Linked DNA regions of Homo sapiens. The protein of the gene in region 2 purifies or fractionates together with the protein of the main gene of each other region. This does not show direct contact. Each region holds a gene or a part of one and is shown on either strand. Other genes may lie near its edges.

Region 1 (3,865 bases), about 14 Mb from region 2:
AGAGGGGAGGGATAGCATTAGGAGATATACCTAATGTTAAATGACGAGTTAATGAGTGCAGCACACCAACATGGCACATGTATGCATATGTAACTAACCTGCACATTGTGCACATGTACCCTAAAACTTAAAGTATAATAATAATAAAATAAAAAAAAGGTTTTTTTTTTTTTGAGACTGAGTTTCACTCTTGTTGCCCAGGCTGGAGTGCAATGGTGCGATCTCAGCTCACTGCAACCTCTGCCTCCTGGGTTCAAGCGATTCTTATTGCCTCAGCCTTCTGAGTAGCTGGGATTACAGGCACACGCCACCACACCTAGCTAATTTTTTTGTATTTTTAGTAGAGATGGAGTTTCACCATGTTGGCCAGGCTGGTCTCAAACTCGTGACCTCAAGTAATCTGCCCATCTCGGCCTCCCAATTGCTGGAACTACAGGTGTGAGCCTCCGTGCCCAGCTGCCCATATTCTTTTTATCACGTCATTCTGTTTATTTCCCTCCCAGCACCAATAACCATGTGAAATCCTTCTGTGAGCATGTTTTCTTGTCTATCATGGCTGCTTTGGCAGAATGTAAGTCCAGGGGACCAGGGTCTCATCTGTGTTGCTTTTGTGTCTTTTCCAAGCAAAGGGCATAGTTGGCACTCACAGGATGTTTACTGGACAAATGCATGAATAAGAACATGGCGACACAGATCTGGAGGAAGTATGCGGTGGCTGAGGAAGTGGTCAGGGAGGGACTAAGGATGAACTTGACTTCCTTGGAATTTGTGTATCTCACATGAGGGTTAGGTATTAAAATTTCCATGTAAGGGAAAAGTTATCCTTTAAAGTCCTTTAAATCACTTTGAAACTACCAGAACTGGGACCTTGGGAAGTTCAAAAAGTGAGAATTAACTTCTTTGCTTTTCTGAGCATTTGGGCTGTGGGGTCTTCCCAGCTATGGGGCAGTGGAAGGCAAGGCTGTTGAATGGAGAATAGGGTAACAGGGTCAACAAGGGGATTTTATTGTCTTTTTGGAGGAGCCAAGTAGAGATGGTTGGCTTTATGTAAATGTACTTATGATGTAATGTGGGTATGATGTAACATGCATTTGATAGAATGTCTGTAAGAGGTAATGGGCATATGAAATAGCATGCATATGATGTAATGCACATATAATGTGACATGCATATGGTGTAATGTGCATATGATATGTGCATATAACATGCATACAACATAACAGATATATAGTGTAACATGCATATGATATGATGTGCATATGATATAACATGCATACGATGTAACAGGTATATAGTGTAACATGCATATGATGTAATGGGCACATGGTATAATGTGCATAAGATATAATTTGCATATGAGATAACATGCATACGATGTAACAGGTATATAGTGTAACATGCACATGATGTAATGGGCACGTGGTGTAATGTGTGTATGATGTAATGGTGTGTATGGTGTAACTCACCTGGCTTTCTCATGGCTTACCCATTGTCTCTGCTCTTCTGTTCCAACTCAGGAGGCAACCTTTCCAAACAAGACTGGACCATCCAGTGGCCCACGACAGAGACGGGGAAGGAGAACAATCCCGTGTGCCCCCCGGAGCCCACCCCGTGGATCCGCACCCATCTCTCCCAGAGCCCCAGGGTCCCGTCCAAGTGCGTCCAGCACTATTGTCACACCAGCCCCACTCCCGGGGCCCCTGTGTACACCCACGTGGACAGGCTTACCGTGGACGCCTACCCGGGCTTGTGCCCGCCCCCGCCACTGGAGTCGGGCCACCGTTCCCTGCCCCCATCGCCCCGGCAGCGGCACGCGGTCCGCACCCCGCCGCGCACCCCCAACATCGTCACCACCGTGACCCCGCCGGGCACGCCGCCCATGAGGAAGAAGAACAAGCTGAAGCCCCCGGGGACCCCACCGCCCTCCTCCCGAAAACTGATACACTTGATCCCGGGATTCACCGCGCTGCATCGGAGCAAATCCCACGAGTTCCAGCTGGGGCACCGCGTGGACGAGGCCCACACGCCCAAGTGAGTGCGATCGGTGGGTGCCCTGGGGCGGTCGAAACCCGGCCTGCGAGGGGCTGCCCCTTGGTCCCAGGAACTGCCCAGGTCAAGGAAACCGGGAACAGACTTGCGTTCCAGACTCTGGTTGAATGAAAAATGGCTTTTCACAGAGGGTTCTGAGCAAATGAATAGAACAGAATTTCCCAGAATTGGCCGTTTAAAAAATACGATTAATATCCTATGGCCTAGGGGCTAAATCTGATACCCGGCCTGATTTTGTAAATAAAAGGTATTGGAACACGCCCATGATCATTCCTTTATGTGTTGCCTATGGCTGCTTTTGTGTGACAATGGCAGAGTGAGAATAGCCCACAAAGCTGAAAGTATTTACCATCTGGCTTTTTACTGAAAACGTTTGCCAACCCCTGCAGAGTCTAGCCTAGTGCCGCTCCTAGAAATAGGATATGAGGCATATATTAACCTTCAACTTTCTAGTAGTCACATTAAAAAGAATGAAAAGGAACAAGTGATATTAATGATCATAATACATCATTCAACCCAATATATCAAAATTATAATATCTTAACAAAGAATCAATGTAAAATATCATTACAGAGATATTTTGCATTTTTTAAAATACAAAGTCTTTGAAATTGAATGTGTATTTTATATCCACGGCTCATCTCAGTTGAAGGTGGTAGGAAGCAGGACACGTTGGGGAAATTGACAGAGGACCCCTTTGGGGGAGAGAGCAGGTGTGTGATGTAGGGTGAGACTCGAGGATTAGGCAGGTTGCTGTGCTATTCACAGTAGCCAAAAAGTAGAAACAACCTGTGTCCATCAGTAGACAAATGAGTAAACACAGTGTGGTCTATCTATACAATGCAATATTATTCAGGCTTAAAAAGGAAGAAACTTCTTTTTTTTTGAGACGGAGTCTAGCTCTGTTGCCCAGGCTGGAGCAGTGGTGGGATGTCAGCTCACTGCAACCTCTGCCTCCCAGGTTCAAGTGATTCTCCTGCCTCAGCCTCCCAAGTAGCTGGGACTACAGGCCTGTGCCACCACGCCTGGCTAATTTTTTGTAGTTTTTGTAGAGATAGGGTTTCACCATGTTGACCAGACTGGTCTTGAACTTCTGACCTCAAATGATCTGCCCGCCTTGGCCTCCCAAAGTGCTGGGATTACAGGCATGAGCCATCATGCCCGACCTGGGAGGAACTTCTGATATATGCTACAACATGAGTGAACCTTGAAGACAGCATGCTAAGAGTAAAATATGCCAGACACATAATGACAAATACTGTATAATTCCACCAATATGAGATACCTAGAGTAGACAATTTATAGAGGCAGAAAGTAGAACGGTGGATGCCAGGGCTGAGGGGAGGGAGAATGGGGAGTTGTTATTTATTGGATATAGACTTTGCATTTGGGATGATGAAAACATTCTGGAGATGGATGGTGGTGATGGTTGTACAACAATGCAAATGTAATTAGTACCATTGAACTGTACACTTCAAAATGGTTAAGATGGTAAATTTTATATTATGTATATTTTATCACCATTTTAAAAAGGCAGGATTCTGTAAGTGAAGGGTTGGCACACTTTTTCTGTACAGGGGCAGATAGTAAATACTTTAGGCTTTGCAGACCATTCAGTCTCTGTTGCAGTTACTCAACTCTATCATGTAGCACAAAACCAGCACAGACAATAGGTAAACAAATGGGCATGGCAGTGTTCCAATAAAACTTTATTTATAAAAACAGGTACCTGGCCCAATTTGGCCCATGAACTGTGATTTACCAAGCCCTGTCTGAAGCCGTAGTGTAGAGAGTGATCTCTTTTCTGAAGCATTGG
Region 2 (3,937 bases):
GTTATAAATGTTATCTTACTGTGGAAAGGAATTTAGAGTTTGTTAAGATAACTTGAGTTTAAAAGTAGGTGAGATATGACTATCCAAATTAAATATAAATCTGGGAAGAGTTTTTATACTTGTTTTAATATTTTTGTTTATTTTAATCGGTAAGTATGTGTGTGTATATATATATACATATATAAAACATCACACACGCACACCAGTCTAGACGTTAATTTCCTTTTATTGACCAGCTTGTTCACATTACAGATATGATGGACGTGGTCACCTGCATGACCTTTCTGAGTACGATGCTGAGTATTCCACGTGGAACAGAGATTATCAGCTGTCTGAAGAGGAGGCGCGAATAGAGGCCCTGTGTGATGAAGAGAGGTATTTAGCCTTGCATACGGACTTGCTTGAGGAGGAGGCAAGGCAAGGTACTGCTCAAGACAAACTTACTTCAGCAACAAACTTTTTAAAATTTTTAAGTATTTAAAAATTTACTCCCATTCATTTTTTTATACTCACTCTTTCTGATATTATCTTGACAGTACCCAGTGGATTGGAAAAACAGGAGTCTTTGCGTTCTGAGAGGACCTCAGGATAGTTTATATATAGAGCCACAAAGAATTTTCCCAGCTTTTGAGGGCAGACTGGGATTTGAAAAAAACAAAAACCAAACTCTTTAACTGTTCTTCTTTAACAGTATCGTATAAATAAAATTGATGTTCTTGTCTTTGCCGTAACAGTCTTTAATACAGTTCTTAATCCCAAAATTTTCTCAGCAGGAAGAAATTTTCCACAAAAGACGTGTATTCAGCTGTCTGTGGGTAAACATGTACTGACAAAAGTACATAATGATAGATATAAAGTGTGAATTTTTAAAACTATTTTACCTCAAAAGTAGGTTGAAAAAAGTATGTTGTATGCTTTACTGATAGCTACAACTTTAGAAATATATAAAGTTTTTCTCAGTAATTTTCTATTTTTGTTGATAAAATTCTCATTTTTATTCAAGAGGAAGAATACAAGCGATTGAGTGAAGCACTAGCAGAGGATGGGAGCTACAATGCCGTGGGGTTCACTTACGGTAGCGACTATTACGACCCGTCAGAGCCGACGGAGGAGGAGGAGCCTTCCAAACAGAGAGGTGAGTGGGGAGCTGCCTGGACTGCTGGTGTAGGGCTACACGTGTACGCACAGGCTGCATGCACCGTGGTCCAGTCTGCAGAACACATCTCTGGCACTCATGATAGCACCACTATGACCACAGGAGAAAACGGGAGTGATATTCCTTCTTTTGGTAAAACGAAGTTAAAAACTAGAATGATTAATGGAGGTGGAAAGTGAATGCGTTGGATTATTTATTTCTCATTGATTCGGGTAACAGAATTACTCATTCAGGATTATTTGTTTCTAGATTGGTAACATGTTCATTAATATCCTCAGGGATTCATTCTTGAGGCAGTGAAAGAATAGGTGTTAACTGGGATAAGTTAACATCACCGCCCTCTCACTGACCTGCTTCCCCATATCCCTCCACAACTGAGACAGTGACACATGCCCAGTGGAAGGACACAGTGAGGGAGTTTCTACTCCCCAGAAAACAGCACAGCTTCCTGGTAGCCTTGATGCCACCTAGGGCATATACTTACCACAGTATTTTAAATTAAAGATTTGGAATTTATGCTTTTCTGGATTAACATGGGAAACTTTGAATATAAAAAATAGTGCTGCTGAAAAACCTGGGCTCGTGTAGTATAGACACAAATATCCTCAATCACTTCACTAAGCGTCGAGAGCTCCACTACCACAGCGCTGCATCATGGTCAGTCGTTAATTAGCAGTAATGCTAACATGAACCTGACACCTTAAAGACGGGTCAGTATATTCAGGATATTCTGTTTAAAAAGAAGAAGAACATTAACTTAGAAACATTCAAATGTTTACATTACATCAAATGGAGATTTAATTGTAGAGCTAATTTAATCTGTTATTCTGAACTTCATCGGTTTCTCCTTAAGTAACACTTTTTATCTTTTTAAATTTTTTTATTAAAATACACAATAATTTAAAAAAAGAGATGGGGTCTCACTGTGTTGCCCAAGCTAGTCTCAAACTCCTGAGCTCAAGTGATCCTACTGCCTTGGCCTCCCAAAGCACTGGGATTACAGGCATGAGCCACCACATCCAGCCAAGTGACACATCTTTTAACAAGTATGAAGCAATTATAGCACTTTAGTAGTAAAGCAAAATGATGTTTGCCCTTCCATCCTGTGACTGCACTATGGTTCTACCCATCGGCACTCTCCAAGGGCTGCGATCCTAACGGAATGATAGGACGTGGGGCAAACGCACACACCGGCTTTCCTTTTGCCCTGTCTTTAGTCCTGCTCCTTACTTTGTGGGCACAAGAATTACTGTTGCACAGCTCTATTTTATGAGCTTTTAGAGAAACTTTCAAGTGTAATTGTAATTATACTGAGTTAAAGGCCAGTTAAGGTATTTAAGACTTTTTGCATTGACTTTCAAACCTACCCATCCCTCAGAAGTTACGATGCACTAGAAATGTTCTATCAGGTCTAAAACGTAAACACCCATTTATTTATCCAGAATAAGCTCTCCTTCCTCGGGTTCTGGATAGTTCTGATTTTGTTGTCTTATCTCTAAGCCACACACATGAGTTCAGCTTTCTATCTGTGGTGTTTTTATCAGAAGGAAGGAATAGATACTATAGCCACTTCACAAATAAAGAGTTGAAATACAGTCAGCTTATTGGGTCCACATCTGTGGATTCAACCAACCACAGATCTAAAGTATTGGAAAGAAAATAACAAAGTTTTATTGGAACACAGCAATGCTCATTTGTTTACATATTGTCTGTTGCCACTTTCGCACTTCAGCAACAGAGTTGAAGAAATGAAACACCATATGGCCCACAAAACCAGAAATATTTATTAATACTGTCTGGCATTTTATAGAGTTTGTCAGCCCCTATTCTAGATGATGGACCATTGTCTCGGCGTAATTATTGGGCTAAATGATGTTCAGTTTGTTATAATTATTGAATCTTGAGAACTTCAGCATGACTTAGCTTATCATCTGAGTATTAGTTTGCTTTCCCCTTAAGATAAAGTTCTCTTTAGTATTTTACAATGTTACTTCTTTTCTTTCTGTAATCGTGTTCTCAGAACATTGCCTTATATACTGATTAATTTCGTTAATGGAAATTGGGCCCACATAAAACTTAGAGCTTGACATTTCGTGTTTAACTTGCATTAATATAAGTGAAACACCTAACACACACACACACATACGTGCATATTGTAATAGAATCCAGTACCACTAACAGCCCCATTGAGCGTCACATTCTGTTAAAATAAAATTTTTTTTCCTGAGCCATCAATATGTCTACGTATGTCTTGATTTTCAAAATTACTGTATTGTATTGTTTGTTAGTATTTTAAAGCCTTGTGATACTAGCCAAAAGCATTTTGATGGTGCCTCCATCTCTGATCTTTACTATTTTCAGTCAAGTTTTTATCCTTTAGATGTTCATAATTTTTCATCATTATTCTATATCCATTTTTTTCCCTCTTTTTTAGGGGAATAATGGGGCGGGGACAGGCCCTCACTGCTATATATCCATTTTTTAAACAAAAGGTTATTTGAATTTATTTAAATCTGAGTTTGTAGTGCAATGGTTGGTTTTTATTTTGTGCTACTAAAGCTGTTTTTTTGTAAATAAAGGTATATATAAGAATAGACCAAATCTGTTTAACCCATCAATCCCAAAAAGCTATTTCAATTAAAATGCCTTGATTTTTATGAATAACTTAACATTAAGGAGAAGCTATTTGCCTAGACAATGTTTTAATCATTTTTTTCATTTTAGGAAAATATAGTAAAAGTTGTATTTTTAAATTTACTTTGTTTTACTTTTTTGAGACAG
Region 3 (3,865 bases), on a different chromosome or scaffold from region 2:
CGAACACTGAGGCTCAGCAACTGACTTGTCAGGGTCATATGACCAGTCAGCAGTAGCATCTCGATTCAAACCCAGATTGTCGTCACTCAGATTCAGACTCTCAACTCTACACAGTTCTGCCTTCCCAAGACCAGCCACCTCTCTTAAAAGTAGATTTTTAAAAGTCAATCCTCTGATTTCTTTCTAAGTATACATATTTTTTTCCTATCATTCATAAAGCATTTGTTTCAAGCAAAAAAACTGAAAACCTCGCTGTTCAAGTAGAAAATCCAGCTATGGCTCTATAATTCTGAAATTCCCGTTCCAGGAAATGTATACTGTTGACTTTTTCAAAAGATTAGTGAGCTGTGAGCCCTCTCCTGAGAGGATTACATCTTACTTCAGGGCGACCAGGTGGCTCCTGATGTTCTGAAATACTCGAACTTGGCCACACACTCTGGAATTTTAAATTAGTTACCAGTATTTACTAACAAAGGAAAACAACCCATGTATATAAAACACATACACCCGCACACAAACACCCTTTATTGGTTGCCAGATAATGATTTGTCTGAAGTGTGTTGTCTGAGTTGGTGTGCGAATTTCGTATTATAAAAGCAAATGACAATAGCATTCCAACAGGGACCTAGGCCAAAGTCAAGAGGAAAGAATATCCAAACGTAGCATTAGCATTCCAGAAGTCAAATGACTATTATTATGTCAGTGGGGCAAAAGCCTATGCCCATTGAGCTGTTTGTACATGACGCAGTCATATTGCACTAACAGACATTTCACTAATAATGAAAACCAGTAGGAGGCTGAGCGTAAAGCTGGATGTTATGACTCGCGACTGTAGATTACCTGAATCCAGTAAATTTACTGTCTCCCACATCTATTGTTCTTTTTACAATATTGTTCCACCTCTGCCTCAAACAATACAATGGAAAAGGCGTTATGGATGGCACATGTACAAAGAGTCAAACACCTGCCCTATATTTCCAACTTTCACCTTGCTTCGCAAATTATAGCACAATGTTACAGCAACAGCAAATTTTAGTCTTACAGCTGCCCACTTCTGCTGTGCAAAGGACAAGATTAGGAGGATTTTGGAAAGAAAGCAAAAAAAAAAATCCACCTCCCTAGGGACATAATAAATGCATTTGTCATTGTGCCCCTGCCACACTAAATGTGCATAACATACACTGCCTTAATTTTATGAACTAATTATGGGATCAAAGTGACAAAAATTCCAAGTCTCTCTTGTTCATGAATAATGAAGTGGGACAGTATAAGTGAGAGGATGGCCTGAGAACCAAGGCTTCCCAGGTGCCACATATCGTCCTAAACAACTGAAATGCTGCCCAAGGGGGCATCGGGATTAGAGGTTATCTGCAGCTGGCTTCTGAACAAGCTCCCACAGCAAGGGAAATGGCTGGGTATGCTGGGATCTCCTGTGGCATAAGGACCTCACTCTGGGCTGTGGGGCAGATGTGGCAACCCCAATTCCTTGGGTGATGGGCTTCTCTGGGCATCTCCCCCCATGCTCAGGGAGAAGGGAGCTGATCTCTAGGGGAAGGGTGCATATCTTGACAGAGGCCGCCGCCACTGCAGCCTTCCTCCTGCTCTGAAGTGCTCTCATCAGGGGTCAGCTGGGGATCATCTGCCTACATGCCAATGCCTGGCACTCACCCATTCATGCACTTGCTCATTCACCAAGTACACATGTATGTATGCAGCCAGGCCCCACAGAAGCTCAATGAAGATTACCTGAAGAGCTTGTATTTGTATATTGCAACTAGGAATGACAACAACAACTCACTGGCAGGAGCCAATGTGCCAGGCACAGTGCTAAGTGCTTTGCATATTTTATTTCATTTAACCTTCATCACAGCCTATAAGATAGAAGGTACTGGTCTCCTTTCTCATTTAAGGGTATAGGTTCAGAAATGTTAAACTACAAGGCAACGCTGAAGAGGAAATGTCAGATCTGGGACTCAAATCCAAGCCCATCTGACTCCAAGGCTATGCCCTCTCAGCTGTTAACCCAGGCTTTAATTGTTTCTGAATTAATATCCCAGATGTTTCTCATTTAATCCTCCCAAACACCTGTGAGATCGAAAATTCAGGTATTATGCACATTCTTTTCAAATAGGAACTAAGGTCAGAAAGGATCACGCAAAGACAAGAAAATATAGCACTGTGGCCAGATGTGTAGACCCTGCTCAGTCACCTTGGGGAGGCTGCTTCAGTTCTGCCAGCCTCAGCTTCGCAATCTGTAAAATGGGGTGAATGGTAGTCCCTACCTCATTAGGTTGCTGGGAGAATTTAATGGGATGTCATAAGTAAAGGGCTTATCACAGTACCTGGAATGCAGAAACTACAGCATTGAGCGTTACCTGTTTTTACTATTAGATTAAGCAATTTGCCCAGGGCCACGGTGGAAATGCACACAGAAAAGATAAAAAGAGAGATGCCACTGCTTAAGGCCAATGACCCTTCCTTTAACAACACAGCATCTCCAAAGATGTGAATCTTTGAAAATGCTCCAAGCTCTTGACCTGTTACTCATAAAATAAGAAAATGATTTCATTGGAGATGGAACAAAGGTGGGCAAAGGAAGCCTCCTAGACTGAATGGAGCTGAGAGGGTAAGCTATCCAGCAGGAAAGAGAGAAAGCCAAAACGAGGACAGCCTGTCCCACAGGAGGCTTAGCCAGGGCCCCGCAGTTGGTCTGAGGCTCTGCTGCCACATCCTGGAATTCTTAATAATTTTTTAACAAGGGATTCTGCATTTTGCACTGAGGACCACAAATTACATAGCCAGTTCTGATCTCAGCAAGTCCTCAGATTCAACTGCCTACAAAATTCCAGACGCTGAACAAATCCATGCCTGTTGGACTGGCGTGACTCAGTTCTGTCCTACTGCCCTGGTTCATTCTCTCAAGTCAGCCTCTCTAACATCCAAGAGGACAAGAACAGTCTTCCCCATCAGCAAGCATTATCTGGCACGTTCTGTGATGAGCAGCATCCATTTTTATTGGCACAGGCACGCACACATACACACACTTAATAAGTATTACGGTAATGGCATGTGCAGGCCCCAAATATCAACTGGCAGTTGTTTCACCTAAAATGGAAAACTCGAGGTCTGTTTTGTGAACCCACAGCATTTATAGCCTTACCCACCTTGCCTGTCCAGATCATTTACATGCATAACAGTCCTTTTAACCTTGGGAGGGTACTGTTTTCCATTAACAGGTGCCAAGATAAATACTCTGAAGTGCACAAAGTGAAGGAACAGCCATCCATTTCTTGTGAAAAGATAATGCTTTCCTTTCCAATATGGCCTTGAAATGTGCGCCAATAGTTTGGTTTCTGAGTTGTTTATTTTCATAATGTTGATTTGGGGTAACTGGGAAGCTATGCAACATATAAATTTAATACATGTTATAAATTTAGTGCCTTAAACAGCCTTGGAATGAGCACCCAATGAGTGTTGTTCAAAGCAAATGGAAGTTGAAATGTTTACCATTTATTAGAAATGAACTGGACTATTTTCAAGTATGTATTTGTAAAAAATAATTCCCTTCTGAAAAGTAGACGTGCTGGCTATGCACACAGAAATCCCCTAAAACACATCAGCTATACAAATACCTAATCTGCCAAGGGTGAGCTGTAAGTACAGGCCAAAGTACTGGGCTGTCGAAGGGGCTTAGAGTCTGGTTTTACATTATAGAACAACCACTTCAGACAGAGTCTGTTGGTCACTAAATATTTAGGAAAATCACAAAAAATCAAGCATCCTCCTCTTCCTCATATCATTTTCTTCCTGTAAAGGAGAAGCAAAATTTTGTTTAATGGACCAAAGAGGGCTGATAAGGATTCTG
Region 4 (3,865 bases), on a different chromosome or scaffold from region 2:
TTTTGTCCATTGAAATGTCTTAAAACTGTTTTGCTCTGGGAGGCCGATGCAGAAGGATTGCTTAAAGCCAAGAGTTGGCCGGGCGTGGTGGCTCACACCTGTAATCCCAGCACTTTGGGTGGCCGAGGCAGGCAGATCACCTGAGGTTGGGAGTTCAAGACCAGCCTGACCAACATGGAGAAACCCCATCTCTACTAAAAATACAGAATTAGCCGGGCATGGTGGTGCATGCCTGTAATCCCAGCTACTTGGGAGGCTGAGGCAGGAGAATCGCTTGAACCCAGGAGGCAGAGATTGCAGTGAGCTAAGATTGCGCCATTGCACTCCAGCCTGGGCAACAAGAGTGAAATTCCATCTCAAGGAAAAAAAAAAAAAAGCAGCCAGGAATTTGAGACCAGCCTGGGCAACATAGCAAGACCTCATCTCTGCAAAAAATTTAAAAAATTAACCGGGTGTAGTGGCACGCACCTGTAGTCCTTGCTATTCAGGAGGCTGAGGCGGGACGATTCCTGGAGCCCACAAGTTCGAGGTTACAGTGAGCCATGATTGTGCCACTACATACCAGCCTGTCCCTATAAAAATAAAATAAAATAAAAGTGTTCTGAGACAGATTTATCTACCAAATGTTTTGCTTAATACTTGGATGAATTCAAGAGAAAAAGATATATTTTATTCATATTTAAATAAAACTATAACAGCTAATACTGTTTTTCTGATTTGAAAAATTGTTTATAATATTACTATAAGATGAGATTAACAATCTTTGTAAAAATCAGATTATGTTTTGGGCTTAAAAAAAACCCTAGTGTTTTCTACTATTAGTGTACTCAAATGATTTGTGAGTGATAGTACTCAAATGAGAATTGCATTTAATTTGTACATAGTTAAATCGTCTTGTTTTGAAGCACAAAGTCAGGATGTTTCTCATCAGAATTTTCTGTTTGAATAGGGAAAAGTGGCATTGGTCATGAGGCATCATTAAAACGGAAAGCAGAGGAAAAATTGGAAAGCTACAGAAAAAAGATTCACATGAAAAACCAAGCTGAAGAAAAAGCTGCAGAACAGTTTCGGTAAAACTATTTTTGAGCTGGTTTTGGTTCTATTTCCTCTTTATTGTGGTATGTTCTCTGGTACTTGGGCATATAAAATGGTTAAAGATAACGTAGACCTTTAGTTTACAATTTTTTCTTTCAATTAGAATGCGACTTAAAAATAAGCAAGATGAAATGAAGCTAGAAGGAGATCTCAGAAGAAGCCAGCGAGCCTGTCAACAACTGGATGTCCAGAAAGTAAGCCTTTTACCAGCTTTCAGTTTAGTAAAGTGTTTTGGCACCCCCTGTGATTTCCCGTTTATTTATTATATATATATATATTTTATATATGTATTATATATATTTATATATGTATTATATGTTTATATATGTATTACATATATTTATATGTATCATATATATTTATATATTTTTTACATATGTCTTATATATTATATATATTTTATGTATTTATATATATAATATATATATTATATATATATATAAAACTAAGAACTCCAAGCCCGGTTTATCTACTCATTAAAGCTTTCATGTAATGTGCACTTCTGATCTGTGACAATTGATATAAAAATGGCTTATTATTTACTATAGTAACCTGAGTTGTCTGGGTTACTATAAAACCCAGGGTTTTATAGTAACTATAGTTTTATAGTTTTATACTAACTATAGTAAAACAAAAAGGGTTAAATAAAATTTTACATTTAATTGTTCTCTGCTTATTTGAATATCAGTTATGACTATTATGTGCAGAAATTCTGTTCTTTATAATATTTGATTAACAAGAATAGCCTATTTTCAGTTCCTATTCAGTATCTAATATATGTCTAACTATTAAAATCAGAGTGGGCCAGGCATGATGGCTCAATCCTGTAATCCTAGCACTTTGGGAGGCAAAGGCAGGATGATTATTTCAGCCCAGGAGTTCGAGACCAGCCTGGATAACATTTCAAGACTCCATCTCTACAAAACATCTTAAAATTAGCTGCATGTGGTGGCACACACCTGTAGTCCTATCTACTCAGGAGGCTGAAGTGGGAGAATCACTTGAGCCCAGAAGGTTGAGGTTGCATTGAGCTATGTTCATGCCACTGCACTCCAGCCTGGGTGACAGAGTGAGACCCTGTCTCAAAAATAAAATCAAGGTGGAATGCTATCTAGTTCAAATTTGAATAGTTTTTAAAAAATTCTGTCTCTGGCTGGGCATGGTGGCTCATGTCTGTAATCTCAGCACTTTGAGAGGACGAGGCTGCAGGATTGCTTGAGTCCAGGAGTTTGTGACCAGCCTGGACAACATAGCAAGTCCCCAGCTCTACAAAAAAAATAAATAAGTAAATAAATTCTGTCTTTGCTTTTATCTTAGTGGTTCAAGTACTCTGAAAATAAAATGACTTCATTTGAAGTCTCAAAAAGCTTTGTAAAATTTCCCTTATATATAGATTACTGGAAGCAATCTCTCACTTTCCTGTTCTTACATATTACTTTACTTTGAATGTATTTCATGGCACTTATGATTTTGTAGCATATATGTATTATTTTGTACCCATAGCCTATCTTTCCTGCTAGACTGTCAGAAGGAACTTAAAGACAACTGCACAATTCTAAAGAATTGGACTTTGCATCCCCATAGTTCATGGTACAATGTTTTCACTTTTTTTTTGAGATGGAGTCTCACTCTGTCACCAGGCTAGAGTACAGTGGCGTGATTTTGGCTCACTGCAACCTCCACCTCCTGGGTTCAAGCAATTCTCCTGCCTCGGCCTCCTGAGTAGCTGGGACGACAGGCATGCACTACCACGCCCAGCTAATTTTTGTATTTTTAGTAGAGATGGGGTTTCACCATGTTGGTCAGGATGATCTTGATCTCTTGACCTCGTGATCCACCCACCTCTCCCTCCCAAAGTGCTGGGATTGCAGGCGTGAGCCACCGTGCCCGGCCAGTGTTTTTACTCTTAAAGCCACACTCAGTGAATACGTATTGAAAGAATGAATTCATGTTGACATGAACATATTTGTCATGCTCTTATGTTTAGTATGTTTAATTGAGACTACTTCTGCATTTTCAGAATATTCAGGTTCCCAGGGAAGCATGGTACTGGTTGAGGCTTGAAGAGGAGACTGAAGAAGATGAAGAAGAAAAAGAACAGGATGAAGATGAATATAAGAGTGAAGATTTAAGCGTATGCTTTGCACCATTTCCTTCATAGGGTGTCTCAGCCTTGGCAACATTAGCACTTTGAGTTGTGGTAATCCGTTGTTGTGGAGAGCTGTCCTGTGCATTGCAAGATGTTTAGCAGCATCTCTGGCCCCTGCCCACCAGATACCAGTTGCACTTTTGCTTATGACAACCAAAACCCTCTCCAGACATTGCTAAATGTCCCCGAGGGGAAAAATAACCCCTGGTTGAGAGGTACTGCATTGCAGGATTACTTTACTAACCCCAAATCAAAACTTACATATAATTTTTCCCTTTAGCTTCCATTTGTCCTCTCATCTCAGCTTCAGTTTGGATGATGAATTAGCAACAAATGTAAATTATTTTAATTTATACCTTATTTCCTGCAAAACTTCTACAAGTCATTCTAATGTGTACTTTTTTCTCCTACTTATAAACAACAAAAAAACACAATCAAAAGAAAATGGAGGCCGGGCATGGTGGCTCACACCTGTAATCCAAACACTTTGGGAGACCAAAACTGGTGGATCACTTGAGGTCAGGAGTTTAAGACCAGCCTGGCCAACATGGTAGTGTATTTTAGTCTCTACTAAAAATACAAAAATTAGCCAGGTGTGGGGCACCCAATAATCCTAGCTAC

The links.
Region 1: the proteins of SFSWAP (region 2) and KSR2 purify together in Homo sapiens (co-immunoprecipitation; one large-scale study listed by IntAct). This does not show direct contact.
Region 3: the proteins of SFSWAP (region 2) and CACNA2D3 purify together in Homo sapiens (affinity purification with mass spectrometry; one large-scale study listed by BioGRID and IntAct). This does not show direct contact.
Region 4: the proteins of SFSWAP (region 2) and GPATCH11 purify together in Homo sapiens (affinity purification with mass spectrometry; one large-scale study listed by BioGRID and IntAct). This does not show direct contact.

Annotation. Positions count from the first base shown.
Region 1 is NC_000012.12:117,759,177-117,763,041, reverse strand, and holds part of KSR2 (kinase suppressor of Ras 2), read left to right. Parts: intron 1-1,517; coding exon 1,518-2,031; intron 2,032-3,865. UniProt on the Homo sapiens protein: Location-regulated scaffold connecting MEK to RAF. Has very low protein kinase activity and can phosphorylate MAP2K1 at several Ser and Thr residues with very low efficiency (in vitro).
Region 2 is NC_000012.12:131,713,819-131,717,755, forward strand, and holds part of SFSWAP (splicing factor, suppressor of white-apricot homolog), read left to right. Parts: exon of another isoform or gene 1-252; coding exon 253-422; intron 423-1,003; coding exon 1,004-1,135; intron 1,136-3,937.
Region 3 is NC_000003.12:54,129,001-54,132,865, reverse strand, and holds part of CACNA2D3 (voltage-dependent calcium channel subunit alpha-2/delta-3 precursor), read right to left. Parts: intron 1-3,865. UniProt on the Homo sapiens protein: The alpha-2/delta subunit of voltage-dependent calcium channels regulates calcium current density and activation/inactivation kinetics of the calcium channel.
Region 4 is NC_000002.12:37,090,967-37,094,831, forward strand, and holds part of GPATCH11 (G patch domain-containing protein 11), read left to right. Parts: intron 1-949; coding exon 950-1,070; intron 1,071-1,174; coding exon of another isoform or gene 1,175-1,198; coding exon 1,199-1,289; intron 1,290-3,115; coding exon 3,116-3,229; intron 3,230-3,685; exon of another isoform or gene 3,686-3,794; intron 3,795-3,865.